Regions from separate parts of the Homo sapiens genome. Here region 1 is linked to region 2. The links come from fine-mapping of genetic effects on gene expression. A gene starts in region 2. The other region holds a variant in brackets. All regions are shown on one strand. Distances are from middle to middle.

Region 1 (16,251 bases), 590 kb after region 2:
TACCATTCTTGTTGAATGTCAGGTTAAGAAGATTGGGTTACCTCTTTGAATTTCTCTCCCAATATATCTAATGGGGAGCTATTTCAGAATTTGACCTTTCTGTATAAAATGTTTTTTGTCTCTGCAGTATCTACCTTCGTGTTGATCAATAGAAATTCTTGCACAGTAGAATTCAGTCTTTAGTTTTGATAAATCTGAAAGCAGTACAGGTGGAGGGTAATTAAGAATGAGGTGTTTGGAGTCCTACAGACCTGGGTTGAAAATCTCAGACCCTCCAGTTCTTAATTCTGTGACCTTTATCATCTATAAGATGATAGAACATTACTCCATCTGTAACCTATGAAGATTAAGCAACATGTTTACATGGGCTGGTTGCCCCTCCCCTGAGCCACCTCAGTGAGGTATCCCTTGACCATCTTCCCTAGGAGTTCAACCCCCTGACCCCCACTCCAAAACTTCCCGTCCCCCTTTCCTGCTTGATTTTTCTCCACAGTTCCTCTCACCACCCACACACTGTGTATTTTACTTATTTTTTTCTTCCGAATAGTGAGTTATTGTATCCAGGGTTGTTATTCAGACACCTCCGGGCACTCAGTAAATTCAATAAGTATTTGCTGAGTGAGTGAATTGTTTAGCAGAGTGCCTGGCATATATTGAGTGCCCAATAAATCATGCAAGATATGAAGAATCATAAAAGAATACAGGAGAAGGAAAGGGGGATATTTAAGTATAAAGGTCCTGTGAACTCAAGATGGGCCACACACAAATAACCTCATTGTGTTTGTGTTCTCCCAGGACTGGAAAACTGCGATTATAATCCACCCCTTATTACCCTGAAGGATAGATACAAGGAATAAGGCTTCAGAGCCTCCCAAACAAACAGACAAACAAAAAACTCTGGGCTATGCTTTATTTACCTTTCTAGATGTATATATTGTACCAAGAAGAAATATTTACATGGAATCAGGAAGCACACAAAAGCCAGCTGTGAGTGAAATACTAAATACTATGTATAAGATATATTAGGTCCTCTTAGATATTAGAAAGATGATAGCCCATCTTATTTTTTTTTTCTTTTCTTTCTGCAAGGTCTCACTCTGTCACCCAGGCTGCAGTGGTACAATTTTGGCTCACTGTAGCCTTTCCCTCTTGGGCTCAAGTGATTCTCCTGCCCCAGCCTCCTGAGTAGCTGGGACCGTGGGTGCGCATCATGACGCTAGGCTAAGTTTTTGTAGAGATGGGGTCTTACTGTGTTGCCCAGGCTGGTCTCAAACTCCTGGCCTCAAGCAATTCTCCCGCCTTGGCCTCCCAAAATGCTGAGATAGTAAGTGTGAGCCACGGCATTCAGCCCCATCCTAGTTTTGAAAGCACCATTTCTTTTCTTTTTATTTTTAAATTGATATATCATAGTTGTTATCTATCTTGGCGGTACATGTGAGATTTTGATACCTGTCTACAATGTGTAATGATCAAGTCAGGGTAATTGGGATATCCCTCACCTCTAACAGTGATCTCTGCATGGTTTCTCAATTTAAAAAAATAATCTTCTTGCTTGGAAATTTCAAATAAATTATCAAGACTTAAAAGCAAATTAAACCAATGGGAATTCTGAAGTTTCTTTTTTGTAGTAAGTGTTTGTTTTTTCTCTCTCTCTCTGCGTTGGGAAGCTGTTCTTACTGTCCAGGCAGAAGGTAATGGAAAGTAGCATTGGTGGTGGTGAGAAGTGGTCTGGTGGGCTATATTCTGAAGGTGGGGCCAACAGGATGTGCTAATGGACTGGAGGGGGGTATGGCTTGGAAGAGGGTGCCAAGGATTGTGGCTGGCACAAGGGAAGACCTGCAGTCTCCTCAGCTGAGATATAGGGAGGCTGTGAGTGGAGCAGGTGTAGGGAAATGTGGACATGTTAATGCTGCTCAGTGTAGGTGGACCTGTTTTGTAGGTGGTGGGATATGTGTCTGGTGTTCAGGAGGAAGGTCTTAGCGGGAATGTAAATTTGGAAATGTTCAGCGTATGGATGGTATTTAAAACCGTGAGGCTGGGTGTTAAGCCCAAGGGAATGGATGCAGACAGAAGAGGCCCAAGGCCTGAGCCCTGGACGATTCCAACATTGAGATCTTTAGCTGTGAATCTGGAGCCAACGGCTGACACTTGAGGACAGTCTAACACTGTAGATTGCGTACTATTTTAGGCTGTGTTCCCGTGATCAGGAGATATAATTTTATGAAGCTATGCGACTGTGAAGCTAAAAGGAGCCTCAGGGGAGTGTCTAATTCAGTGGTTCTCAGCCTTGAGCTGTGCCACCCACCCAGAGCGAAGATGGAAATGTGGGGGTGGAGGATCGGGGGTTGTTAGAATACCCGTGGGGTGCTCCTGGCATTTACCACCAGGGCCCAATGAAGCCACATATTTCGTATAGCCCAGGTTGGTCTGGCACATTGAAGAGACTGTCCTACCCAAATGGCCACAGGGCTTCCTGTCAAGCCCTCATTTACTTATTTCCCCCCATTAGTTAAAAAAAAAAAAGCATGTTGAAGTTGTTTTTTTGTTTTTTCTGTTATTGCTCTGAGTCATACCTGCCTTCTCCATCAGCCAGCCCTCAAAAGCAGGTTGAAAGCCATCACCTCCTGAGCCTTGTAGCCCATACAGGCCCCACAGGAAGTCTCTGTCCCTCTGACTAGCAGCCGCATGGAAGTATGAGTGTGTTGTGGACTGAATTGTGCCCCCTCAAGTTTCTTACGTTGAAGTCCCAAACCCCAGAGTGACTGTATTTGGAGACAGGTCCTTTGTGGAGGTGATTAAGGTTAGAGGAGGTCCTAAAGGGTGGCGCCCTGATCCACCTGTCCTACAGGACAGGTGTCCTTATAGGAGGAGGAAGATGGAAAGAGAGATTTTTTTCCCTACCATGTGAGCACACAGCAGAACAGGGCCACCTGCAAGCCAGGAAGAGGCCTCACCAGGAACCAGATCTGCTGGTACCTTGAGCTGAGCTTCCAGCCTCCAGAGCTGTGAGAAATACAAATCTATTGTTGGGCCAGGTGCAGTGGCTCATGCCTGTAATCCCAGCACTTTGGGAGGCCAAGGCGGGTGAATCGCTTGAGTCCAGGAGTTTGAGACCAGCCTGGGCAACATAGCGAAACCCCATCTCTACAAGAAAATACAAAAATTAGCTGGGCATAGTGGCTCACACTTGTGGTCCCAGCTACAAGGGAGGCTGAAGTGGGAGGATGGCTTGAGCCTAGGAGGCTGAGCCTGCACTGCACTTCAGCCTGGGTGGCAGAGCAAGACCTTGTCTCAAAAAAAAAAAAAAAGTCTATTGTTTAAGGTCCCGTCTGTGGTATTGTCAGCCCAGGCTGACTAATACAGAGTGGAAACGATACAGCATGACCGGCAGGCCAGTGGGAGGACCGGCCAGCCAGATCCTGAAATGACTTGGGTAACACTTGCCTTCATTTTCTCTTAAGCTCTTCTGAAGCCTCTCCCCAGTGTTGTCTGGTTCAGAGGTTCCTGGGGTAACATCCCCTTGATGCCTTCTTTAGAGTGTGCTGCGCTTAGGAAGTGAGTGTCGTCAGGCTGGAGCGTTTCCGGGATCCAAACTCCTTTCCAGGAGGGTTTTGATTGTTTTTGCCTGGAAATGCATCTGATAAGAAAATAAAGTAGAGGAACCCAGGAAGTTTATGAAATCTCTTTCTCTCTACTAGGGAAAACTTGGGACAGTTTACATTGAAATTATTTACAGATGTAAAATGAAATCAACCTTTAGGGGGGAAACCATTTTCTTTGTTTTCTTCTTTCCCCTGTCAACTAGACACCGTTCCTTTTGACTTGTTTCATTAAATCCTTTAAAAACAAGAACTGCTTGTTAAAGAAACAGGTTTCCTTTGGGTTTCAAACGTTTAGTTATTAGAAAGCTTTTCTCTGCCTTGCCACCACTACATTTAAAATGTGGGGTTTTGAAACATTTTTGTGTCTCACGCTGAAATACCACTGCCTGAACCATTTCCCTACAAAGGAACCTTCTTTGAGAGGAGTGTGTCCAAGTTGTACATCTAATCGGTTTATCTTTAAGTCAAGAATATGTTGTTTTTACTCTAGTTACAGATTATAGTGGCTCACCCTTTGTTTAGAAGAATTACTAAAGAACTCTATTTTGACCACTTTTGAAATGTCTGCCTTTAACACAGCCAAAACATAGGTCAAAGCTCTTAAGGGTGTATTCTTTTATTTATTTTTTAGGGGCATTTAAAGAGGGCAGACATTGAAGGCCTGGGTTGTGCTGTTTACTCTCACTGGAATGTCAGTATTGATATCAGTTGTTTTAAGAGTGGCTAATCAGGATTAAGGATTGTGGGGAAAGATAAAATCCAAACTTCCCATTCTTATTCTGGAAGAACAAACATTGCTGAAGCCAAGTGAAGGTTTTCAGCATTAAGTCAGCCAGCTTGGAGGGAGGCTTTGGCTAAGGCAACTATTAGGGGACTCAGAGTTTTCTTTTTAGGGGGGCAGAAGATCTAGGGAAATCCACACAGCTCCCCAGTGGGAGTGTGATTGGAGACCCAGGCAGGGCTGGAGCTTTGTCCTTATGTTGTACTTCTCGGCAGCTCGCGGCGTCTCATAAACATGCGCCGCTGGCCTCCTGAGATTCTTGTGACGGAACCGCTGCTCCATGGTAGAGCTGGCCCGAGCACCCACTCCTCCCGCATCAATTTGCTGCCCAACTCCAACTCTGTATGCCGCACCACAGGGTCCTGGTGGAGGAGATGGGAGGCCACACGGGGTGTCACAGGTGGGGACAGGCGCTTCTCTAGGCTTAGCTGTTCTGGCTTTGTTGGCATTTGTGGCCGTGGGGCAGGTGGAGTTTGGGTGTGGTGTAACAGTGAATGTTTAAAAGCTTGTTCAATAATCACAGTAACAAAGCAGTTCATTGAACATTTTTTGGTATCAAGGCCCATGCTCAGCCTTTTGTGTGCATTAATTTTATTTAAGGCTGGGCACAGTGGCTCACACCTGTAATTTCAGCTCTTTGAGAGGCTGAAGCAGGAGGATAGCTTGAGACCAACCTGGGCAATATAGTGAGACCCCATCTTAAAAAACAATTACTCTAGTGTGGTGGTGTGCACCTGTACTCCCAGCCGCTTGGGAGGCTGAAAGGGGAGGGTCACTCGAGCCCAGAAGTTTGTGGTTGCAGTGAGCTATGATCATGCTATTGCACTCTAGCCTGGGCAACAGAGTGAGACTCTATCTCTAAAAATAAAAAATTTTATTTACTCTGCATCACACTCCTGTAAAGTGGGTAGGGATGCTATACTTCTGATGATGTCGTATACCAGTTCCCAGAAGGCTCGGAACTCAGACCCCACTTCCAGAAAGTAGAAGAGTTGCACACAGGAGTCAGGTTCGGCAGGATGTGAGCTCAGTTTGCAGAGCAGAGGTTGTTTTTCTCATTTTTCACATTGTCGGTTGGAACATGTTTGGGGAGAGGCAGGCAGCTAGGATATCCCGGGGCCTCATAAGGCACCACCTTGTATCTAGAGAGCCTTAGTCCCCAGGGATTTTACAGTTACTAAGCCATGAAGTTTTATCACTTGTCTATGAGGCAGACGAGAAAGGTGAGCCACTTGCCTGAGTTCTAACAGGGCTCACTGGTGGAGGAATTGGAGCACTCTGTATCCTGGGCTCAGGGTTCTGTCTAACAGTTGTGGCTCCCTTACTGTCCGCTCTTCAGAGGGTCTTTCATACTCCCGGCTTTTAGGCATGAGTCTTGGCATGAGGCCTGAATGCACCTAAAAAATGGAAGAGATGGGTGTTGGTAACTTGCAGCCAAACAACCTCCTAAGGGAAGCTGGCCACACGTTGATGGGATGCTGAGAAATGGAGAAGAAATGGGGTTGTTTTTCTTTTTCCAGCTTCAGATTCTCGAAGAAAATGTATTGGAAGAGTGCACTCTATTTCTGTTCCCTTGGAACATTGCTGATGCCGTTCAGGAAGTGAGACTGCTTGTGTGTTCAGTCAGTGTGACATCTCTGCCTGTCAGTGTGACATCTCTGCCTGCTGTTGGAAGGGTGCTGGCAGGCTCAGCGAGATATACGAGATGTGGGGAGTGGGAAGTGGCCAGCAATAATGGCTCCTTGCTTAACGGGTCCCCCACCAACTCATCCCAGGTTGTAACTTGCATCTGATATGCACAGTTCACACCAAAGCCATGTCATTATTCATCAGCGTGCTTGTTTATGTTTTGTTTTTATTTTTTGTGTCTTTATAAAACCAACTTCTGGTTTCAACCACAGACCGTTCTTTTTCTTCCCTTGATATGTTTCCTCTTTTTTTTTGGTCTATTTCAGGCCTTCTCTCTGTCTGAATTAAAGAATGCATTGAGACTGGTATAAGTAGACTGTATTGATTTGACTGTAGAGATTTCGTTTGTGTCGATGTTGGCATCTCTGAAGGGCCCGTTTCAAGTCTCCTTTTCAAAGATCATTAGCAAACGTATTCTCAAAGCTTAACCCCTGAGTGGCTGCCCACATGTGTGGCTCAGTTTCCCCATCTGTAACTCTGGGTTATGGTTTGGGCAAAAGCACAATGATGCTAAATGAGTTGTGTGATTTGCTTTCTTTACTCTTTAGTCTTTTCTTTCTGCCATCATCCTGGGAATGCAGTGATGACCATGAGGATCGTCTTTGTTGTCAAGAAACTGTAGTCTTCCCGGAGAGGCAGACAAGGAAACAGGCAATTACGTAGCCTAGTAAGGATAACCTAACCACCTCTAGACCATTTACAACAGAGCTCTGTTCTTTCTATTTTAGACCTGTTTGTGAGTTTCTGTTATTTTCTTAGTAGACTGGCCCTTTTATCATTATGAAATGCACTTCTTGTCAGTGGTAATGCTTCTTGTTTTACAATATCAGTAGAGCTGCACCATCTTTCTTTGGTTTCATGTTTTTGCATGGTATACATTTTCCCATGCTTTCACTTTCAAACTTTTTATGTCCTTATATTTAAAGTGTATCTTCTGTAAGTAGCCTATAGTTGGATTTTGGACTTTCATCTGCTGTGACAATCTTTATCTTTTATATGGTGTATTTAGTTCTTTTACATTTAATGTAAGTACTAGTTTATTGGGGTTTAACACCAACATCTCACTGGTTGTGTTCTCTTAGTTCCACCTGCTTTGTGTTTCTTTTTCCCTTGCATCCTCCTACGTTTTTTCTTCTCTGTTGGTTTGCTAAATTCTTGACTAGTAAGTCCACATGTAGAGCCTAATGTAAATGAATAATTTTATTACTTCTTAGACAATGCACAGACCTTCTAATAATTTACCTTCCACTTACCTTCAGCCCTTTGTGCTCTTGTTGTCATTTAGCTTAATTCTTTCTTTATAAACTCTATAGGATATCTTTTATTGTTTTATGCAGTAAATATCCTTTTGATTTATTCACATATTTATATTCCCATTGCTCCTCATTTCTTATATTTCTATTTTTCTACCTAAGACCATATTCCTTCTGTATTTCATTAGTATTTCTATTAGTCCCAGTATGTTGGCAATGAATTGTATCCTTTTGTTTGTCTGAAAACATCTTAACTTTACTTTTTTTTTTTTTTGAGACGGAGTCTCGCTCATGTTGCCCAGGCTGGAGTGCAGTGGTGTGATCTAAGCTCACTGCAACCTCCGCCTCCCCAGTTCAAGTGATTCTCCTGCCTCAGCTTCCCAAGTAACTGGGATTACAGGCACCCACCACCATACCTGGCCAATTTTGTATTTTTAGTAGAGACTAGGCTTCACCATGTTGGCCAGGCCGGTCTTGAACTCCTGACCTCAAGCCATCTGCCCACCCCAGCCTCCCAAAGTGCTGGGATTACAGGTGTGAGCCACCACGCCCGGCTTACTTTTGTTTTTGAAG[A/G]GTCTTTTCACTGACTGTGAAATTCTGGGTTGACAGTGACTGTCAGCACCTTTACGTTGTCTTTCAGTTGTCTTCTGTTTTTTGTTGTTTCTGGCGAAATGTCTACCGTTAGTCTTGTTCTTTTTGAAGACATTTGACTTTTCCTTCCAGCTGCCTTTTCAGATATTTCTTTTTTTCAGCAATTTTGCCATAATATGCCTAGCAGTTGTTTTCCTTGTGCTGAACCTGTTTGGGATTTGTGGAATTTCCTGACTCTTGAGCTTCATGCCTTGTCAGTTTTGCCATGCTGCAGTTCTGTCTCCTCTTCCTCTGAGACCCTAATTTCATCTTTGTTAGATAATTCTGCGTTTCCTCTGTCCCTCATAAGCTCTTTTCTGTACTTTTTATTCTTTTTGATTCCCTGTGTCTCAGTCTGGATATATTTCTGTTGGCCTGCTTCCTGTTCATTGATCCTTTCCTCTGCTCTGTCTAGTCTGCTTTTAAATCCACTGCTGAATTCTTCATTTCAGTGATTGTGTTTTGTTGTGTATGAATAAATACCGAGATATTTCAGGGCTCTCACTGACTTTTTCCTCCAAAGAGGATTTAGTTTTGTTCTCTGGCAGGCAGTTAAAATAGGGCAGGTCACCTTAATCAAGTCTGGAATTGAGCTGGTATAAAGCTGGGTTTCGGTCTTTTGTGAGAGAGCTGGTGAGTTTCCAGTTCTCTTTTGCCACTAGGAAGTAGCCCTGTGGGATTCGACCTGGAAGTCTGGGATATGTATCAGAGCCCAGTTTCCTCAGCAAGCCCTGAAGTCCATTTCTGGCCTCCACAGCTCCACAGCACCTCCAGAAGCTTTCACTTGGCTCTGCACCTACAAGACCATCGCTTCTGCTCGGCTCAGTCGGCCGTTTGGCTCTATGCCGTTTGAGGGGAAGAGGATCAGAGAATGTTGGCCTTCCTCTCTAGGTGCTTCTCCTTTCTGGAAACCTGACCTCACACCTGGCTGCTTTGCTAGCTCTCTAGTGCCTTCAAATAGATTCTTCAGTGTATTTCATCCCGAATTTCTGGTTGCTTTTAGTGAGTAGGTTGGTCTACAGCAAGGAACTTTACTGTCACTGGAAGCAGGAAAAACACCTGAGTGTTTTATTTGGAATTCAAATCCACTCTGAATTTGGCAGTTTATAAATTTTGCCCTGAGCAATAATGTCTATCTCGAAGGAGAGTAAATGGAAATACAGGCTTGAAGTTGGGATGTGTTGCTTTTATTAATAGCTCAACCAGCTGTTAGCTCCCAGACTGAGGTTAAAATAATCTCTGTAAACCCTGGGTTTCTTATCTGTAAAACAATAATCATGCTTGCCTGGCCTGTCTTACAGCATTTTTATTAGGCTCAGATGTACACATAAACTACATACATTAATTACACAAATTCAGGACATTAATATAGTGACTAGTGGCTTGTATATATATCAGCTTTAAGTAAAGAATGAACTGTTATTTTGTTACACTTTGCTCTCAAAATGTGTGTGACATGGCTGGCAGACTTTCAGCTTCCAGTATGTGAATGCCTCTGTCACACTGAGATGGTATTGGATTGTTTTATCATAGAACCAAAAACAGTTGTGGAAATAGCTGTGAAGCAGTGATCCTACCTATTTCAGAAAGAAATTAGACCAGGAAAAATGGAGTCAACAGAGTTTTGCTTGATAAATGAGATCAATCTTCGAGTCCTAACAAACTGTCCTACTTCAACTATCCATTTAAAACCCATCACTTTGCCCCCCGTCGTGGAACCATGAAACTGAAAGAACAACTTTCTTTTTCAGTGGAAGGGTTTTGTATATTTTAGGAAACAGTCAAAATACTGTAAAATTTATTTTAACTTTTTTTGTCATTTAGGCTACGTATTTCACTTGAATATGGTTTCGGAGATTACTTGTGATGTTTCTAATGAACTTAAAAGAAGCAGCATTGTCAGTTTATGGTACATTCATTATTAAGTCAAAACACCGATCTGTTCACTGGTGTAACTGACAATTCACATATACTTTGGAGTTGTCTCACCCCGTTGCCCAAGCTGGAGTACAGAGATGTGATCATAGCTCACCGTAACAAACTCCTGGGCTCAAGCCATCCCCCTGAGTAGCTAAGACTACAGGTGTGCGCCACTGTACTCAGCTGATTTAAAAAATTGTTTAGTAGAGATGGGGTGTTGCTATGTTGCCCACACTGGCCTCAAACCCCTGACCTCAAGTGATCCTCTTGCCTTTACCTCCCAAAGTGCTGGGTTTACAGGCATGAGCCACCATGCCTGGCCTGTACTCTGGAGTTGTTAAATGTTAATGGTAGAACCTATGAGGGCCCATAATCTCCACTGCCATCTGTAAAATTTAAAGTTCAGACTTTTATAGTAACGACTATCTTAACTATATTGAATAAGCCATGATTTTCTTCATCTGACAATAATGTGAGAAAATCCACACCTCTTTGGAAATTCAAGTTATTTAAAAAAGGAAATATCCCAATAGGAATATTGTACTTGGATTTAAAGTTTTATATTCACTGAAGATTTATTTTTATTCTTGGATTTATGCATTTATTTAGCAAAGATTTGAGTGCTAACTACATGACAGGTGTTTTTCTGGTCACTGGGGAAACAGCTGTGAACAAAACATTAAAAAAAAACTCTGCCGTCATAGAGCTCACATTAAGAGGATGGGGGAGAAAACAATAAAATAAATCATTAATTATGTGGTTTTTAAAAAGCATGTTAAATACAGAAGAGAAAAAAAAAGCGGTGGAGGTTAGGAGTGTGAAAGAGTCAAGGGTTTTAGTACTAAACAGGTGATCAGGGAAGATCTCACTGACAGGAAGGTGTTTAGGCAAAGACCTGAGGGAAGGGACGAGGGAGTGTGCGTTTGAATAACTGGGAAGAGAGTTCTCATCAGGGGAGGTGGCAAGGGCAAAGGCCCCAAAGAGGTAGTGTGCCAGGCCTATCTAAAGGACAGCAGGAAGCCAGAGTCGCTAGGCAGGTGGCCATGAGGAAGAGTAGAAAGAGGTGAGGTCTGAGAGGAGTCAAGGCACCAAGCCCTAGGAGCCTGGAGGCGCATGGTAAGGGCATTGGCTTTGTCTCTGTCATAGTCCGTTTTGTGCTGCTATAACAAAATACCTGAGACTGGGTAACTTACAAAGAACAGAAGTTTACTTCTTATAGTATGGAGGTTGGGAAGTCCAAGATCTTTAAGCTGGCAGGGCTCACATTGTCTGGTGAGAATCTGGTTTCTGCTTTCAAGATGGCGCCAAGAACAGTGGATCTTCCAGAGGGGACAAATGCTGTATCCTCACATGGCAGAAGGCAGAAAGGCAAAAAAGGGACAAACTCCCTTCATTAAGCCCTTTTAAAGGGTCTTCATTCCTTTCACAAAGGAAAAGCCCTCATTATCTAATCACCTCTTAAAGGTTCTGTCACCACTACATTGGCTGTTAAGTTGCAACACCTGAATTTTGGAAGAGACTCATTCAAACTGTAGCAGCCATTGAGTGAGATGGAAGCCATTGTAGGTTTGGGAGCAGAGGAACAGCATGACCTGAATTAGGCCTCTAAAGGGTCAGTTTTTTAAAAGGTTGCTGTGATAAGACCAGGTTTACTGGGGGTGGGGTGGGAAATACAAGGCCAGAAGCAGAGAAACCTGTTGCCGTGATCCAGCCAAGATGACAGTGGCTAAGAACAGGGGACTAACAATGGAGGTGGTGAGAGGTGGTTGGATTCTGGATGCCTTTGGAAGGTAGAGATGACAAGATATGCTGAATCGGATGTGGAATGTGAAGAAGAGAGGGCTGAAGGATGCCACTGAGTTTCTTAACCAAGCAACTTGAAGAATGGACTTGTCCTTTGCTGAGCAGGGAGCAGTACAACCTCCTGGTTAAGGTGTGGATGCTGGCACCAGGTCTCCCATGTTGGAATCCCAGTTATCCCTTTAGCAGCTGCACGATCTTGGCGTGTCAGTTAGCTCCTTCGTGATATAAGTTAAGGGTGATGATAATACTCATCTTATGGGCTGCCGTGTGAGGACTAAATGGGTTAACACCTGTAAGTGACTTAGCACAGTGGCTGGCACATAGTCAGTACTAAACGAATACTAGCTGCTATTCAGGAAGCATTGCTGGAAAGATTAGGAGGGAAGTTTTCATCCAAGTGGAACTGTCCAGTAGGTGGATGAAGATATACAAAAATCTGGAATTCAGGAGGCAAGCCTGGGGAGAAGTTACACAGTTGAGATTGTCAATGTTTATGGATGGTTTTAAAATCACTTTGTTATCTATCCCTGAATGTGTATTTTTAAATGTGGAGGTATTTCTGGTTACCAAAATAGGCTTAAAGCAGGAGTCCCCAACCCCTAAGCCGTGGACCAGTGGTGACACATGGCCTGTTAGGAACCAGGCCACGCAGCAGGACGTGAGCAGTGGATGAGCAAACATTACCGCCTGAGCTCCGCCTCCTGTCAGATCAGCATGGGCATTAGATTCTCATAGGAGCACGAACCCTATTGTGAACTGCACATGCAAGGGATCTGGGTTGTGTGCTCCTTATTAGAATCTAATGCCTGATGATCTGAGGTGGAACAGTTTCATCCCAAACCATCTCCCCTCTCCACCATCTGTAGAAAAATTGTCTTCCATGAAACTGTTCCTTGGTGCCAAAAAGGTTGGGGACCGCTGGCTTAAGGGACACTGGGTTTGTTATCTGTTGCCTCTTCTTTATGATGATGATTGAATTTCCTCTGGCATCTTTGCCATGGCCCTTTAAACCAAATCTTTTTTATTCTTGGTAATTCTTTAAGTGCAAAGGCCAAGGTACTTGTTCTTGATATTCACATATAAGTGTCACCTGTTGAAGTTGGAAAATTCCCCGTATGTTGCTCTGGGCTAGAATAAAGCAATGCCCTGGTTGCCTAATTCTGCTTGGCCAACGTGTACTGGCGCGTGGGACCATGAGCTGCCCAAGTGGCCTTGGTGGCTTTCTGTTCTGGCATCCCTCTCAAATTAACCCCTTCCTCTCATTGCCACTCTTGGTCCAGTCCCTTGTCCTCCCTTCTGAGTCACTGGACCTGCCTACTCAGATCTCTCAGTACCTCTCCCAGGCTTGTATTCTGCATGCCCCTCCCACACAAGAACTAACCTATGGTGAGGACACCTGGATCCCCCTCCTGGGCCCTGCATAGATGGCCTGCAGTAGCCGGTCCTGCCTCCGCCACCCACTTACCTTTCTTGAGACTTCTGACGTGGATGCATTCCAGATGTGGGGGCATTCTTTGCAAAGTGCTTGTGGCTGTCTTCATTCATGGTATTCTCCACTGCCCTTCTAAACCTTTCTAAATGGGTGTGTCCCTTAAAACACAATTTGCCTAGATTCTTCCAAAGAACTGCTTCTGACTGGCCCCCTGCCATGGGATTGCTGCCCTTGCTTGAGACCTTGCCACCCCCAACCAGAGCCTCTGTGCCTGGGCTTTCTTGTTTTGTAGCTGTGCATGATTTCTCCAGGTATTTCGTAAGTTGCTTTGGGACAGAGACTATCTGTAATTAGACAGTTCTCTAATTCCTCACTTAAATTCTTAGGGAATTCAGATTGTTAAAAAAATATCTAGAGAGCTATTAATGACATATACACAATTTGTGAAATAATGTTTTTAATCTTGAGACAGTACCTTGTACTCAAACACACTAATGTTTTTGCAGCAGAACATGAATATGCATACCAAGTGGGATAAATCAGGAGAACAGTCATCAGGTCAGGTTTTACTGCCACATAATTCAGATCATGGCAGGCTTTGCCACCAAATATGATACAGATTTTTTTCCAAGGTGTTTTTGTTTTTTTTTTTAATGTTGGAATCAAAGATTAGGAATTATGGACCCTCGCTAGGTAAATAAAGAAGAATACCATTGATTCTGCTGCCACATGATAAACAGCCCACTCCGGAGGCACCAGAGCCTACTTTTGGGTTGCTATGCTGTAGATGAGGGGAGCAGGGCATAAAGGGAGTTGAAACTCCCGGGATGGTCTTCAGCTTGATATCCTGCAGGGCCTCTGGTGCACAGGTTGCCCTTGAGATTGGTTAGCACCCAGCGTAGCTCCTGGTAGGCTTTGCCACTCCCTCACTGTCACCACGTGCTGGGTGGGCTGAACTAGATCTCTCTCGGTAGCTGCTTTTATGGAATCACTCAGTTAACCCAGTTGACTGTAGAATCCTGTCTGCAAAGAGGCATCCCCTGGAGGCCAGCGCATGGTGGTGCCATCAAACGAAGGTACTTTTGTTAGGGTTGGTCCATTCTTGGGCTTAATCAGACCCGCCCTAAGGAAATCATGGTATGATGTGACGGTGATGCTAATGATCTGCCTTCTATTGTTGGCAAACCTTATCTTGGCCAAATATTAGCTAAAATCTCTGAATTGGTCTGTGTTTCACCTAGATACTAATGGTCTACGCAGTGGGCTGTTAGCAAGCTTGTATCATGAACTCCCCAAGTTCTCCTTTCTTTAAATACACCGAATTACTCAAAACTGGTTTTTTCTTTAAAGAAAAAGCTTTTTAAAAGTAGATACGTGTTTGTTGCACACAGGAAGAAAAGTCTGAAAGCTTCACATTGTCTCTGGTGAACATCCTTCCTAATTTGTCTCATACCCTCTGATGTTCGATGTATGTCATTTTCTATAAATACAATGACAGTAAAATGACACTGTATTTGCTGTTTGCCTGCCTACTTTTTTTTCATTCAGTAATACATAGGAAATATTTTCTAGGACTGTTAAATATATAACTTTCCCTTATAAAAGCTGTATATATCCCATTTTATGTTTATTTAGCTAGCTCTCTGGTAATGGACTGCTAGATTCTTTTCCTTTTTAATGCTAACGTTGGGATGAATATTTTCGAATAACCTCCTTGCTTACTCATTTAAAAGGAGATGCTATTTGAGATGACAGTGTGTTATTTGGTTCTGAAAATGTACCAGAATTTACTCAATATATTGCTGAGTTTGGCTACTGCTTTATTTTAGGTTTTGAATGAAGATTCATAGCTGAAAGTGTCTGTGGCCAGCCAGCCTGCCTGCCTTCTTTTCCTCCTCTCTCCCGTCTTCCTTCCTTCATCTAGCTTTGGCTTCAAGATTATGTTAACTTTGTAAAATGAATTTAGAACAAATTCCTAAATTTCTTTAGATGCTTCAGAAAAACTGATTTGTAAAGGAGTTATTTGTTTCTTGGAGCTCACCTTTCAAAGTCATCTAAACTTAGAGCTATTTTTATTTTCATTACAGTAATCCTTTGATAACCTTTTAAAATTCTTCCATGAATATTGACATGTGTTCAGTTTTTCTATGCTTTACTTGAATTAATTTGATTTATATCTTCCCAGAAGAATAAATTTCCCTTGGATTTTCAAATTTATTGGCATAGTGTTATATGTATATGCACTTAAATCTTTATTAATTATAAACTTTTCATTTTTTTCTTCTTTAAAAATGCCAGTGATGTGTCTCTGGTTTCTCCTCCTTACTTCTGTCTTCTTTTCATCCTTGACATCAAGTGCTGGGATTTTATATACATTTCACTGCTTTTCTCTTTTTTTTTTTTTGAGACAGAGTCTTGCTCTGTCACCCAGGCTGGAGTGCAGTGGTGCGATCTCAGCTCACTGCAAGCTCTGCCTGCCGGGTTCACGCCATTCTCCTGTCTCAGCCTCCTGAGTAGCTGGGACTACAGGCGTCCACCACCACGCCCGGCTAATTTTTTGTATTTTTAGTAGAGACGGGGTTTCACCATGTTAGCCAGAATGGTCTCGATCTCCTGACCTCGTGATCCGCCCGCCTCGGCCTCCCTGCTTTTCTCTTTAATGCATTCATGTCTGCCTGTTGCCTCTGCTTTCCTCTGCACTCCCCCTGCCCCATGAGAGTTGAATGTTGAATGTTTACTTTATGTCTACTTAATTGGTTTCTGAGTGCAGCTTTGGCTGAGTCTCATAATACGAAATATAGTGTGATAATTTTGGTTATTTTTAAACCTACTTGTAAATGACCGCTATTATTATTTCTCACCACTCTGGAATTCTGTTTTTGGTTTCTTTTTTGGTACGTTGCTTATTTAGGAAAGAGTTTCAAAATCGTAAGAAACTGATTTTTTTTTCTTTTTATCTTTTTAAACTTAGGTCATTGGAGATTTTTTTCTCCTGACTTTATTGCTGTGGAGTCAGACATTACAACTTTATAATTTTACTATTTTGCATATATGGAGGGTTTTACTTTGGGCATGAGATGTAGCTACCTTTAATTGAGATTTTCGTTCCAGGTGCTATGCTAAGCAATTTACACACATTAC
Region 2 (12,716 bases):
GACTTAGGTTACTTTTTAATTAAGCTGTTTTTTTAAATTGCTAATACAGGGATTCTGATACTCTGAGAGTGGGGTCCCTGCTCCCATTCTCTGTGGCCACTGATCAGCACTGCTCTATCAGTGATCCTCCAACCTGGCTATACATAAGAATCCCATGAGTGTGTGGATATGTATATAAATAATTTCAGCCCTGCAGATTCTGGTTGTGTTATATTTAGAGTAAAAAAGTTAAATGCACACGGAGGCTGTGACAGTACTGTCCTTTCCCGTGTGGCCCAAAGTCAAGACGAGTCAATCCAACCAGTGCCTCTTCCTATCACTTGCTACAGCTGCTTTTCATCTAACTTCAAGATCTCCTACTCTGCGGGCTTTCCCAAAGCAGCCCAATTCCCTACTCTAGCTGAGACTGAAATCTTTCCGGCTTCCACACTGCCGATCTTTTGCTGACTTGGGAATGCATGCAAATATTGATGCACATCCGTGAGCATTCCAGGCAGATGGGCCTCGATCTCTTAGATCACCTCTGACAGGAAAAAACTCTGCATGTGAAAGACATGTGAATGACTGATCTGGAGAACAGGCTCTGCAATGACACAGTGTCCTCAAGGTGCGACAATATACCTATGTGTCTGAGGAGGAAGGGAAAAGATGTGAAGTTAGGAAAGAGTAAACAGAACGGAGTAAGAATGAATGATAGTCAACACTGACCATATTTAAGATTGCTAGAAACTAGTCTGTAATACTGATTCTAACAAATATGCTTAAATTAGCTGCCCCAAATAGCAATTTCTCTGAGTCCAAACTACCATTTATGATAAGGGCGCTTCCCTGAGGGTGGGTGGTGAATCAACTGTATGGCCATGGATCTTAAGGGCAGGAATTCTGGCAATGACTCTCTTGCATAACCACGCTAAACTCAAATACTAGAGACACGACCCAATCAACTCAGCTGGGTTTTATTCCAATGTACATATATTTCAAGTGACATGGATAATTAATGAACCTGAGATAAATCGGTCCCCTCCACCCAGACTGATTTCCAGAGTACTAATATCCAAAAAGGGACAAGTGAAGAAAAAAAACTCTCCTTAAACTAGACCTAAGTCTCTGGAGAGACTCATACATGAGACGAACAGTGCAGTTTCGTTACCTGCCTAGCTTTTCCTATAATTATAAAATCTTTCAAACTGAAATTGGATTTAAATATAATTATACTCTTTGTTAACATTTCAGAATTTCTCATCATTTTCAATTTATATAAAATACTTAACTTTCAGAGGTAAAAACAGATGTCAAATACTCTGCTCTTCATATCACATTATTGATATTTCTGGAAATCAAAAATTTCTGGAGGATTTTGACACAATGTATATCTATTCTCATGTATCAACAGTTGCCAGATTGGTATTTCTGGAAATCAAAAATTTCTGGAGGATTTTGACACAATGTATATCTATTCTCATGTATCAACAGTTGCCAGATACTTCAACCAAGTTGCTATATAAAATCCCACATGATCATTTCAATGTAACAACTCTGCAGGGAAAACCACAGCCACACTTAACATTCAACTACAGAAACATGGGGAGGTGGAGATACATGGAACCCAGGCATCCTCTTAAGATGCTGTCAGTGTGGAACTCTAGTCTGGTCAATCCCTTCAGTGGTTACACGCTGCATCCTATCCCTCCACCCCCACCCCCGTTAGGCTCTAATGTACACGGTCGGTAGAGGAGGGCTGGGAGGCACCCTCATCCACCATATCACAGGTTAAAGTACTACACAGTTCCACGAAATGCCAAAAGAGTACTACCTGGCTCCCCCATCCCTCCCCCTGCCCCAATAAGGTGGCAGTTTTGAGTAGGGGTGAGTTCAAGATAAATTCAGGCAAACTCACTACACAATCCTCAAATCAGCTCTTCAACTGAGACTTCTGACTGTTGGCTTTTGAGTAATTGTATCTTTTTTCCAATGGCAAATTTATGTTTATAACAGAAGAAAAAAATTATTTTTTTGCATTTTTTTGTAAAGTGTCTACTAGGTAACTCAAGTTATTAGTTCTCTTCACTCACAGCAACTAAATGGTTGTAACATCAAAAGATCAGTCTAAGTAGGACCTAAAGCCCTAGCTTTGCATTAATCATCATGATAAAGTGTATTCAATAAGCTTTGTGAAAATATAAATCACAACTGAAAAATAAATGAGCCATACTACTTTCAGTTTCAGTCATACCTCATATAATTTAAAAATTATGATAGCCTTTCATATTCAATCTTTGCTCAGACTGACATAAATACACTTGAACTAGAAGCTGTGTTTTTTCCCATGGTGTCCTAAGAAATAAAATGGCACATGGATAAGGCCGTAGCTGGGCTCAGGACGCAGTGAAGAATGTGGCGTTTTGGTGGGGATGGCAGCAGTGGTAGAAAGTAGGTGGAAATCACGAAATCCAGCAAACAGATGTCATGAGAAGTAGATTTTCTCCAACATCAGCTGGGACCTCCATGATGTTCCAGAAGTCTTGTTTCATCAACTACTTACCCTACAGCCTTCCACCTACGCTATTCTAAACCTTCACCAGTCTCCTCACCCAGCCAGCTGACCCTGCTTCTGACCTCAGTGGGCTACTGAGACTTGGGATTCCTTAACTTTTTGATCTAACCAGTCACTTTCCAGCACCACCCTTCACGATCTCTCAGCTGGATGTGATGCTGCTGAACTCACCTCCTACTTGAAACTCTCTTGGTCCCTCCCACTGCAAGCCTCTCTTGTGGCTCTGCCCTCCCATTACTGTCTGCCACTGCTTCTTCACATTCCCGGCTTCACCACACCACCATGCAAGACTTACAGTCAGACCACCTTCCTCAACTCAGTCAATTAACAGACATTTCCACCTGCAATACCTCTTCCTTCTCCCGGTTTTCTTAGCCGGCTTAATGGTGCCACTATCCACCATTAAAGCAAAAACAAAACAAAAGAAAACAAAACAACCAAAAAGCCAGTCATGATAAAATTCTGTTCTCTCTCTCCCTTACTTCAAAGAGGCCACCAACTCCTATTCTAAATGGGAATTCTCTCTCAACTTAAAAAAAAAAAATTGCGGCTAGTGCAACTCAACCATTTCTGCTACCCCATCTTGACTGTTTGCTATTTGACAGCACAAATTGCTTCTCGCTCTCTTTAGAGAAGTGGTCTGGCTATATTGCCCAGGCTGGTCTCCATCCTCTGGGCTCATGATCCTCCCAGCTCAGCCTCCCAGGTAGCTAGGATTACAGGTGTATGCCACTATGCCCGACTCTACAAATCACTTCTCAACTGGACTATTCCAATATTCTTCCACCTTTAGGCCCTCCTCATATGGCCCTTTGAAAAGCAGCCAAAGTACATGACAAATCTAATGATGTTACAACCAAGCCTAAATCACCCCAACCCTCATGCAGGTTGTCCCCTCTTGCCATCACTCTTCCTCAGTTCCCCTAAACAGATGGAGAGTTCCCTGAGGACAGGCCTTATCTTTGAAACTCATCATAAAAATAACGTGAGTGCTATCTAGCTTCTTGGAATTCTTGAGAGTTTATTTTAAGCTCGTGATCTTTTTGAATTTCTACTTTAATACTGTTTTACAGCACAGAAAAACTGCTTTTCTATACAAAATCTTATTAACATGGAAGAGTGTGGCACAATCTACAGAATGGCTCTTTACATTACTTACTATGCTTGACTACATAAAGAAAACTTTCACAAATGCTCTATTTGCAAACACCACTGCAGACAGAAATAGGATGTCCTGTTCTCAAAATAAGGGATAAGACGTTTTCCCATGCTTATCACTGTTCCTGAAACTGAATTCAAATGCAGTACATGAGGATTTGAAGACGCTTCATTAAAACATTTATGTGTGTGTGTGTGTGTGTGTGTGTGTCTCAAAGTGGATGGAATGATCTTCAATTTTTCATTCCAGAGCAGTACTGTCCAAGAGGACTTTTGGCAAACGACGGAGGTGTTGTAAGTCTGCACTGTTCACAACAGTAGTCACTGGCCACACAGGGCAATTGGGCAATGAAAATATGACTAGTGCAACTAAGGAACTGAATTGTTTTAACTAATTTTAATTTAAGTAGTCATAAGTGGCCAATGATTACTGTATTGGACAACAGAGTTCTACAGAATGACATTACCTGGTGAAACTAATGCATCAGCATCTTGGCTTAAAAAAGTTAATTCACAAAGTTTTGCATAACACTTCTGCTTACTAATGACAAAGTCTCCAAAAGTTAGTATTTTGTTTTAAAAACACAGCTACCTTTTATTATTGCCAAACATTGTGAAGTTATTAACATACCCATCCACCTTGATACACCTTACTGGGAGGATATCTTCTTTGACTACTAAACAATTATAAATGGAAGTATTTTATAGTGTTTTCTAAACACTGACAATATACAACACTCTTCAAATCTTCTGTAAATTAAAAAATAGGAAGGAAAAAGACAATTTGCTTCAGTGGAGAAACAGCAGCTAATTTCTTTCTGTAAAATGTCCAACTAAAAGGTAAGCCCAAACCTATGACTACCTTACCATACCAATAAGAAAATTAAAAAGAAAACATTTTAGTCAACTTTAATTTAAAAAAAGAGAAACTCTGAGGGTTACAGATGAAAATCAAATGTCTAACTATAATCTCTATTAATTTACACATATCTAAAATATATAAGGCAATATATTAATTCACTAAAGAAATTCACTCCAACTGTTCATGAATATCTTAAACACCAGTGTCTGTGATGAATTAAGCCACTATGAATCATCAAATTCCATTTCCAGAGCACTTTACCTTTCCCATCTACTAAATCAGTTACAATAAAGCACGTCTTAAATCCATATACTCCTGCTGGAAATCTCAACCCAAGCCATCAATGCCTGTTCGGGTGAGCAGAACTTCTTTTCATTCATCATCATCTATCTATCTATCTATCTATCTATCTATCTATCTATCTATCTATCTATACAGATAGATATATATAGATATACAGATATGTGTGTGTATATATATTATACATACATTATGTTTTGCATTTAACACTTGCACTTTGTGATACCCCCCACCCCCATCAGGAAGAATGACTTAATGACTGAATCTTTCCTATTTTTTTGTTTCACTTATTTGGTAAGATTGAATAAATATCCCAAACTAGCACCAGCTGAGGTTGCTCCAGTTGTTCCAGCCCATTATGTCCTTCCCAAACAGCACCTTGTTGTTCAAAATAGACTGAGAAAGAGTGCCCTGTAACAGGGGAGCCCCAAACATGAGACTTTTGGGGGAAAACCTTGCTTGTGATCAAGCATATACAATACATACTTGAAGATAATTTTTAAGAGGGAAGGCTGCCTGGTTTCTTCATGCTTTCTGTAAGTGCTGTCTAAGCTTTGAGATTTGGAATAAAATGCCCAACTCTACTACCATTTTCCTTTTGAAATCACGGGCAGATAGGGAACTGCCAAGACTTTATCTTAATAAAAAATAAAAGTAAAATAAAATAAAAATAAAAGTCTTTCTTTTTAATTTTGAAATAAGGTCTTGCTCTGTCACCGAGGCTGGAGTGCAGTGGCACAATCACAGCTCACTGCAGCCTTGACTGAGCTCAAAGATCTTCCTGAGTCAGCCTCCTCAGCAGCTGGGGCTACAGGCATGCCCACCATCACACCTGGTTAGTTAAAAAAAAAATTTTTTTTTGTAGAGACGGAGTCTCACTACGCTGCCCAGGTTGATCTCAAACTCCTGTGCTCAAGTGATCCTCCGAAAGTGCTGGGATTATCGGCATGAGCCACCACACCTGGCCCTACTTTAAACATAATACTATACTACTATAGGCACAATCTTTCCAAGGAGCTAATCTGATGTTATCTCTGCTAAGCTTAAAAACATTTACTGCCGCCGGGCACGGTGGCTCGGGCCTGTAATCTCAGCACTTTGGGAGGCTGAGGTGGGTGGATCACCCGAGGTCAGGAGTTCAAGACCAGCCTGGTCAACATGGTGAAATCCCATCTCCACTAATACAAAAATTAGCCAGGCATGGTGGTGCATGCCTGTAGTCCCAGGTACTGGGGAGGCTGAGGCAGGAGAATCGCTTGAACCCGGAAGGCGGAGGTTGCAGTGAGCCAAGATCACGCCATTGCACTCCAGCCTGGGCAACAAGAGTGGAACTCCGTCTCCAAAAACAAAACAAAACAAAACAAAATACTTTCTACTGCCTCCACTAGTGTGAAGGATAGAAAAATTGAGTGTCTACTGTGTCATTTCCAGGTTGCTCTAATCTGCCTGTTTACCTCACTGGACCAATCCTTGGTTCTTCTTACTCTACTGGTGGGTCCCACTCCACCTTCTCCCCTCAGGGGCCCTCCAGTAGTTGGAGGCACTGCCACACTGGCACTACAACCTGGTTTGGCTAAATCCCACCCGCACTTCGCAGCTCAGCTTAGCCATGTCTTCCTCCCAAAAGCTTCCTTGATCACAATCCCTTCCACACACGAACCCAGGAACAAATCTGTCACAGAACTTACCCTATTCTTGTCTGTTTCATACACTACCACTACGAATACTTAACACTGAGCATACTCGACGCTAAGACACTTAAAGCATTTAAAATTAAGTGCTTTACATAGACTGCCTTCTTTAAGCTCACAACAAACCTATGAGGTAGGTAACGTTCTTCAGATGGGAAAGCTGAGGCGCAAAGAAGTTACACAGTGCCAGGATGGGAACTCAGGACACCTGGCTGAAGGGTCTGAGCTCTCACCTTCTACAGCATCTTGCTGCTCAAAGGATTCTACATGTGACCAGGGGCTTCCTGAGGGAGCACAACAATGAATGCTTACTAGAAGCTTGCTGAGAGAATGATCAGAACACTTACTACCTGAGAAGCCACCAGTCACATACAAGACAGGCTGGAAACGTGACTTCTAGTACTGTCCACTGAGTAATACTGGTTTAACAGATGACCCCTAGAGCTCCCTTCCAGCAAAACAAATTAGCAGAAACAAAACCCCCTTTCTTTCCCCAGAGATGTCCTTCACAGGTGCTAATATATTGCTTGCAAAACCAAAAACCAGTTACTGAGTAGTTAAGTGAGGCCTTTACCTAGTTTCACAGTGACAGAAGCTCACATAAGCCTCACATTTACAGGCAGGAGCAACAAAACTATTCCAAGATACACTAATTTAATTTGTTGTTGATGACAAAGAAAAATACTCAAAACAAGCCCACCTTTTAATTTTCTAGCTTAGCGCTGATTTTTAAGGCAGGAAGAATTTACGATTCATTAAAAAATTAGCATATATTCCATTTAACGCAAAAACTTAGGACTACAGGGAACCTAGAAGGTATTTTGCCAAAAAGGAAACGATAATAGCTAACATTTAGCTATTTTCATACACATCATTCTTTTTCTGGGTACCTTTAAAAAGGTCGTTTTTTGGGAGGCTGAGGCGGGAGGACTGCTTGAGCCCAGGCCTGGGCAACATAGAGGCACCCTGTCTCTTAAAGATAAAAAAAAATCCACGTTTAAGTTATTCCTTATCATCGCATTTTATAGATGAGGAAACTACAGTTCAGAGAGGTTATGCAGATGGCTACATGGTTTCCATCCTAGGTCTACTGTCACCAAGCTCTATCCACTACATTATGCTGTTCCAAAGTTTAAAGATGTGGCCAGATGCATTTAACCTATTAAGCACAAAACTCCCTTTCCTACTCCCCCTTCCAAGTAGAGCTGTGACCAGGAACTGGGGCACAGCCTCCGTGTCCTCCCCTACATCCCCAACTCAGGTGTTGGCACACTTGAATCGCCTGATATAAGACACGCTCCGCACTTAATGTTCCTCTCAGCACAGCTCCCAACTGCTTGTTAGCAGGAGTCACCATTCCGAGATTCCAATCTGCAAGGTCAGTTTAGGTACAGTAATTTAAGACAGACACTGCATGGGACTGGCACTTACCTTCTGATCCCAGAACCACAAAGACTGCGAGATCCGCATTACAACGACTTTCACAACTGATGGGAGAACTGCATGTAGCGTTCCTGCACTCCACTTCCGCTAAGTCTAAAATGACACCACTGTTTCTAACCATCCACTCACTTCGGACCAACGCCTTATCGAATACATTTTCAAAAGCCTGGCAGCTTCGCGAGCTGGAGGTGGTGAACCCGTCCCACACCATGGGCGCACCAACCTTACCTTGCTGTCATGAGGCAACGAGCCCCGAGAGACACCCTTGCAGGTAAGCACTCTCCTGCAGCAGCTAGTCTAACTCTGGCTCCCCCGTGTCACACGCGGAGATCGACTCCACACCCACCCACGCACGATCACCATGTGCAAAGTTGAATCCCGACTTCGCCGCAAAGACATTTCCTTTTCCCCTACATGCAAAGGAGCTGTGGAGCCGTGCTCCCTGCTTGGCTGTCGGGCACTGGGATACCTTCCCCGCGGGCGCCCGCCACCTCCTCCCCGAGCCCGGCATCCAACCCGCAGGACCCACCCCTGCGCAGGAACGCGACGCCAGTCCAGGTGTAGCCGCCGACTGCAGGCCACGCCGCCGGCCGCAGCCCGGGACTCGGGAGGCCGAGGGCGGAGGCGCGGCCGTCGCGCCCGCGCAGAGCCGCCCGCCGCCCCCCAGCCCCGCCTCCCGCGCCCCACCCCCACCGCCCGCCGGCGGGAGCCAAGGCGCGCCCCGCCGAGGCCCCACCGCCCCGGCCCCCGCCCGCCCGCGCGCGCGCGCGCCTCGCGACCCTCCCGGCCCTCCCCGCCCGTGCTCCCGGCACTCACTGAACATCCCAGGCGGCTCCGGCTCCCCCCGCCGCCGCCGCCTCCGGGATCGGGTTGCTTCCGCCTCCGTCGTCTCTGCCGCAGGGTCTCACTCCGACGGCCGGCTCAGCTGGGCCCCCGCGCCCCGCGCCCCGCCGCCCCCGCCGCCGCTCTGGGCGGCCGCTCCATGACTGACTGACACGGAGCGGGCCGCGGGCTGGGCCGCTCGGGCCTCCAACGCGCAACCGTCTCCGCCAATGGGCGAGGCGCCTCGGCGCTCGGCTGGCGACGCCTGGCGTGCGTGCAGCCCCTCCCCGCTGCGCCGCCGGCGTCCGGCGGAAGGAGCGCGGGTACCGGTCCCACGTGGTGGGGACGCGGGACCCGTACAGCGGCCTCCGCCGCACCGGGACAGCAGCCGCCGCCGCTGCCGCCGTCCTCCCCTGTCTACCCGGAGCTGTCTCGAGCTGAGCCCCCTACCGGGCCGGATCCCGAGGTGAGTCCCCCACCTGCGGTCAGCCCCTGCGGGCAGCCAGGTCCCGAGGTGAGTCCCCCCACCCGGGGCTGGTCCAGAGGAGATCCCCCTACCTAAGGCCGGGCCCAGATGGGGGGCCCCCCAACCCTGCCCAGTTCCGGTGCCGCCAGCAGACTCTGGGCTGGAGCGGCTTCGGCACGCTCCATTCGCGAAGGCGAACTCCCTCCTGGCTCCTAGCTGCTCTCCCCTGGTTCTTGTTGCTTGGTCTCTTTCTGCTGGGCAGGGAGTGCTGGCAGGGCTGTGCTGTCCGCCCTGGACTTCGCATTGCCCGGTAAGGGCGGTTGGAGGCCCGGAGAGCCGAACTCTGGCGGAGCCGGGGAGAGCATCTCGGTTGTCTTTGTAGCCAGTTCAGCAAACACCTGTTATGCACTTTGTAGCTGTCGCGATGGCGGTTCTATGGTATTGAACTTAGAAAGTCAGGCATCGTTGAATTCGTTTTGGACATTTTGACAAAATAGGAAAACTGACAGCACTTGACGTTCTTGTTCTCTGCAGTAGAGTGAAGGATAACTTAATTTCTAAAATGAAAACGTCTTAACGTTCCTTTTTACTATAACTTTTAGGAAACTCAAAGCCAAGTTTACCCAGTTTAATAGTAACTGTAGGTGTTTGGTATGTTTGCTACCCCCGAGATTTCATGGTTTTTTGTTTTCTATTTTTAGTCTTTTCCTTGTGCAAGTATCTCTTGTAGAGTCTTTTTTGAAGTGTATGTGCGTTGTAAATTTATACACGACTGAATAAAAGTGTTAGTGGAAGGTTACTGTTGCAGCTGAAATAACTGTATTCCTTTGGGGTTTTCTTTTTCACTTGGAGACATATTACTTTCTCCGGATATTGCTTATGTATCTTTTCCTCTTTCAATTTGAAACCATGTATGAATGACTCTTTCCACAAGTAATGTAATCACTGATTTTGGCCTTGTTGAATTCCTGAACACTCACCTTTGTGGAAGTGATGTTTGATCATAGCTGGAATACATATAGTCCATCTTCTGTGTGTGCAGTCCATCTTTTGCTTGCTTTTGTCTGAATTTCCCCCAGAAAATTCTGGAGTCAAGCATCTTGTATGTAGATTTACCCCGACAAATCTGTTGATTCATTAAAAACTTTTAAAAGAATACATATTAGGTAAACAAGATACAGTACTGCAATACTGTTGGTTTTCTGGTGCCTGCTCAGTCTGACATTGTTATAGTATTTTTTTTCCCATTGTTTTTAAATTTTAGATAAAGCCTAGCCATGGCTGCTGTTTATTCTGGCATTTCCCTTAAGCTTAAAAGCAAGACAACTTCCTGGGAAGATAAACTAAAACTAGCTCACTTTGCTTGGATTTCTCACCAGTGCTTTCTTCCAAATAAAGAACAAGTAAGTTTAATGTGAAACTCATATTTTTACAGTCTGTCAAGATAATTATCACTTTTATAATTTGGATATTGACAATTGGTTAAAATAAAAAAATAGAGAAAAAGTTGGGGAGGGAACTTTGTTGGAAGTTAAATGTAATGTCAATGAAAAAAGTAATGAGTCAGGTACTTCATTAATACATTTTTTTTTTCTGTTAAAAAACCTCATTTAGGTCGGGGACAGTGGCTCATGCCTGTCATCTCTATTTTGGGAGGCCAAAGCGGGGGATCGCTTGAGGCCAGGAGTTCTAGACCAGACTGGACAACATAATGAGATCCCATCTCTTAAAAAAATTATATATATTATATATGTATATATATGTATATATACATATATAATATATATATAATATATATAGTATATGTATAGTATATATGTATATAATATATATAATATATATGTATATATATTATACATATACATATTATATATGTATATATATTATACATATACATATTATATATGTATATAAATTAGTCAGACATGGTGGCATGTGCCTGTAGTCCTTACTACTTGGGAGGCTGAGGTGGGAGGATCCCTTGAGCCCAGGAGTTTGAGGCTGCAATGAGCTATGATTGTGCCACTTTCACTCCCAGCCTGGGCGATAGAGCAAGACCTTGTCTCTTTAAAATAAATGAACCCACCGAATTTAGCATTTCTTTTGTTTGGAGACATTATATTACAAACTAAGTATATGCATTAATGAACACATTGGGAATTAAGTTACAGAAGTTAGGTTCTGAAAGTCCATTGATAGCTGCATTTGCTTATAAATCCAAAGTGATGTTTCTTAAACTGTTGGTTGGTGGTGCTTTGTTAAAAGTCTTCCGCATTGGATAAATTGAAGGTTGGGAAGTAGAGAAATGTTAGTATTTGTATAAAGCCATTTTAGAAATGGGCTAGGTACCAAGAAAGGCATTGCATTTTGTTAGAATTTCTCAGGCTTTTTAGGCTAAAAATTAGTTGGCATGATAAACACCAGGATGACAAGCTCATGAAATTGGATTAATACACATCCAGTTGCTGTTGTCAAGGAAGACAGCACAAAATGCTTCCAAGATGGATGACATATGTAAAGCGATGATGACGTGTGGTGTGGAGAGCAGCGGTCATATCCAGTGCTTTCTACACCTGGCTGCACTTGGGAGTCATCTTGGCAGCGTGGCCATCACCTGGCAGGTGCTGCCCAGGGTGAAACAAAGGGGAGGCTCTAGCAGCCAATTGGATCAAGGTTTCTGCTGTTGTTATACTGAGAGATTTTATTCCTTCTGGCATCTGTCACTATTCATACTGTTATTGACAGTTCTGGGATTGTGAGCTTTCTTCAATGTTTTGTGAAGAGGAAACATGACACGTAATGGAACCTGTATAGATAGGCACAGTCCTCCTTTTCATAAAGCACTTGTATGATTTCATATCAACTGTGTCTGTCTCCCAGATGATGTATAAATATTAGTAGTATTAGAGGTTAAGCTGTAGGTAATGTGGGGGAAGCCAGGACACAAATCCCAGACTTTCAACTCTTAACTTACTTTTTTGCTTCGTGTGTCTGATACATTCTGTGGTCATTCTGAGCAGTCTTTGTATTTCTAACTTTTAGAACTTGGTACATGCATATCTCAGAGATACTGCAGGTTTGGTTCCACGTCACTGAAATAGATCACAATATTGTGAGTCACAGAAATTTTTTGGTTTCCTAGTGCATATAAAATTTATGTTTATACTATACTGTGGTTTGTTAAGAATGCAATAGCATTATGCCTAAAAAAAGTACATATCTTAATTTTAAAAAATTGCCCAAAAATGCTAGTGGTTATTGGTTATCTGAGCCTTTAGGGAGTCATCATGCTGGAGGGTCTTGCCTTAATGTTGATGATCTGGGTAGTGATTGCTGAAGGTTAGGGTGACTGGCAACTTCTTAAAATAAGACAACAGTGAAGTTTGCTGCATTGATGGAGCTTTTCCTTTCATGAAAGAC

Alleles and levels. Alleles are on the strand shown, and positions count from the first base shown. SD is a standard deviation of normalised expression in the study named.
For the expression in neutrophils of the gene that starts at base 9,062 in region 2, allele G in region 1 goes with a lower level than allele A (large effect, 1.2 SD a copy in BLUEPRINT).

The links. PIP is the estimated chance that this variant, and not a neighbour inherited with it, causes the effect.
Region 1: its variant is fine-mapped to the expression of TAF5L in neutrophils (BLUEPRINT, PIP 0.95).

What each region holds. Positions count from the first base shown.
Region 1 is chr1:230,206,531-230,222,781 of GRCh38, forward strand. All of the region lies in intron 3 of GALNT2 (polypeptide N-acetylgalactosaminyltransferase 2), which reads left to right. Among named protein-coding and RNA genes, the nearest start is that of GALNT2, 150 kb to the left of the region's middle. The variant A/G (reference allele first, on the strand shown) is at 7,899.
Region 2 is chr1:229,617,061-229,629,776 of GRCh38, forward strand. It overlaps TAF5L (TATA-box binding protein associated factor 5 like), which reads right to left and starts at 9,062. Exons shown (of 5, transcript NM_014409.4): 1 at 8,825-9,062. URB2 (URB2 ribosome biogenesis homolog) reads left to right here and starts at 9,187. Exons shown (of 10, transcript NM_014777.4): 1 at 9,187-9,296; 2 at 10,561-10,699. The coding sequence starts at 10,574. RefSeq lists enhancers at 6,576-7,126, 7,971-8,020, 9,681-9,760 and silencers at 8,511-8,700, 8,791-9,490.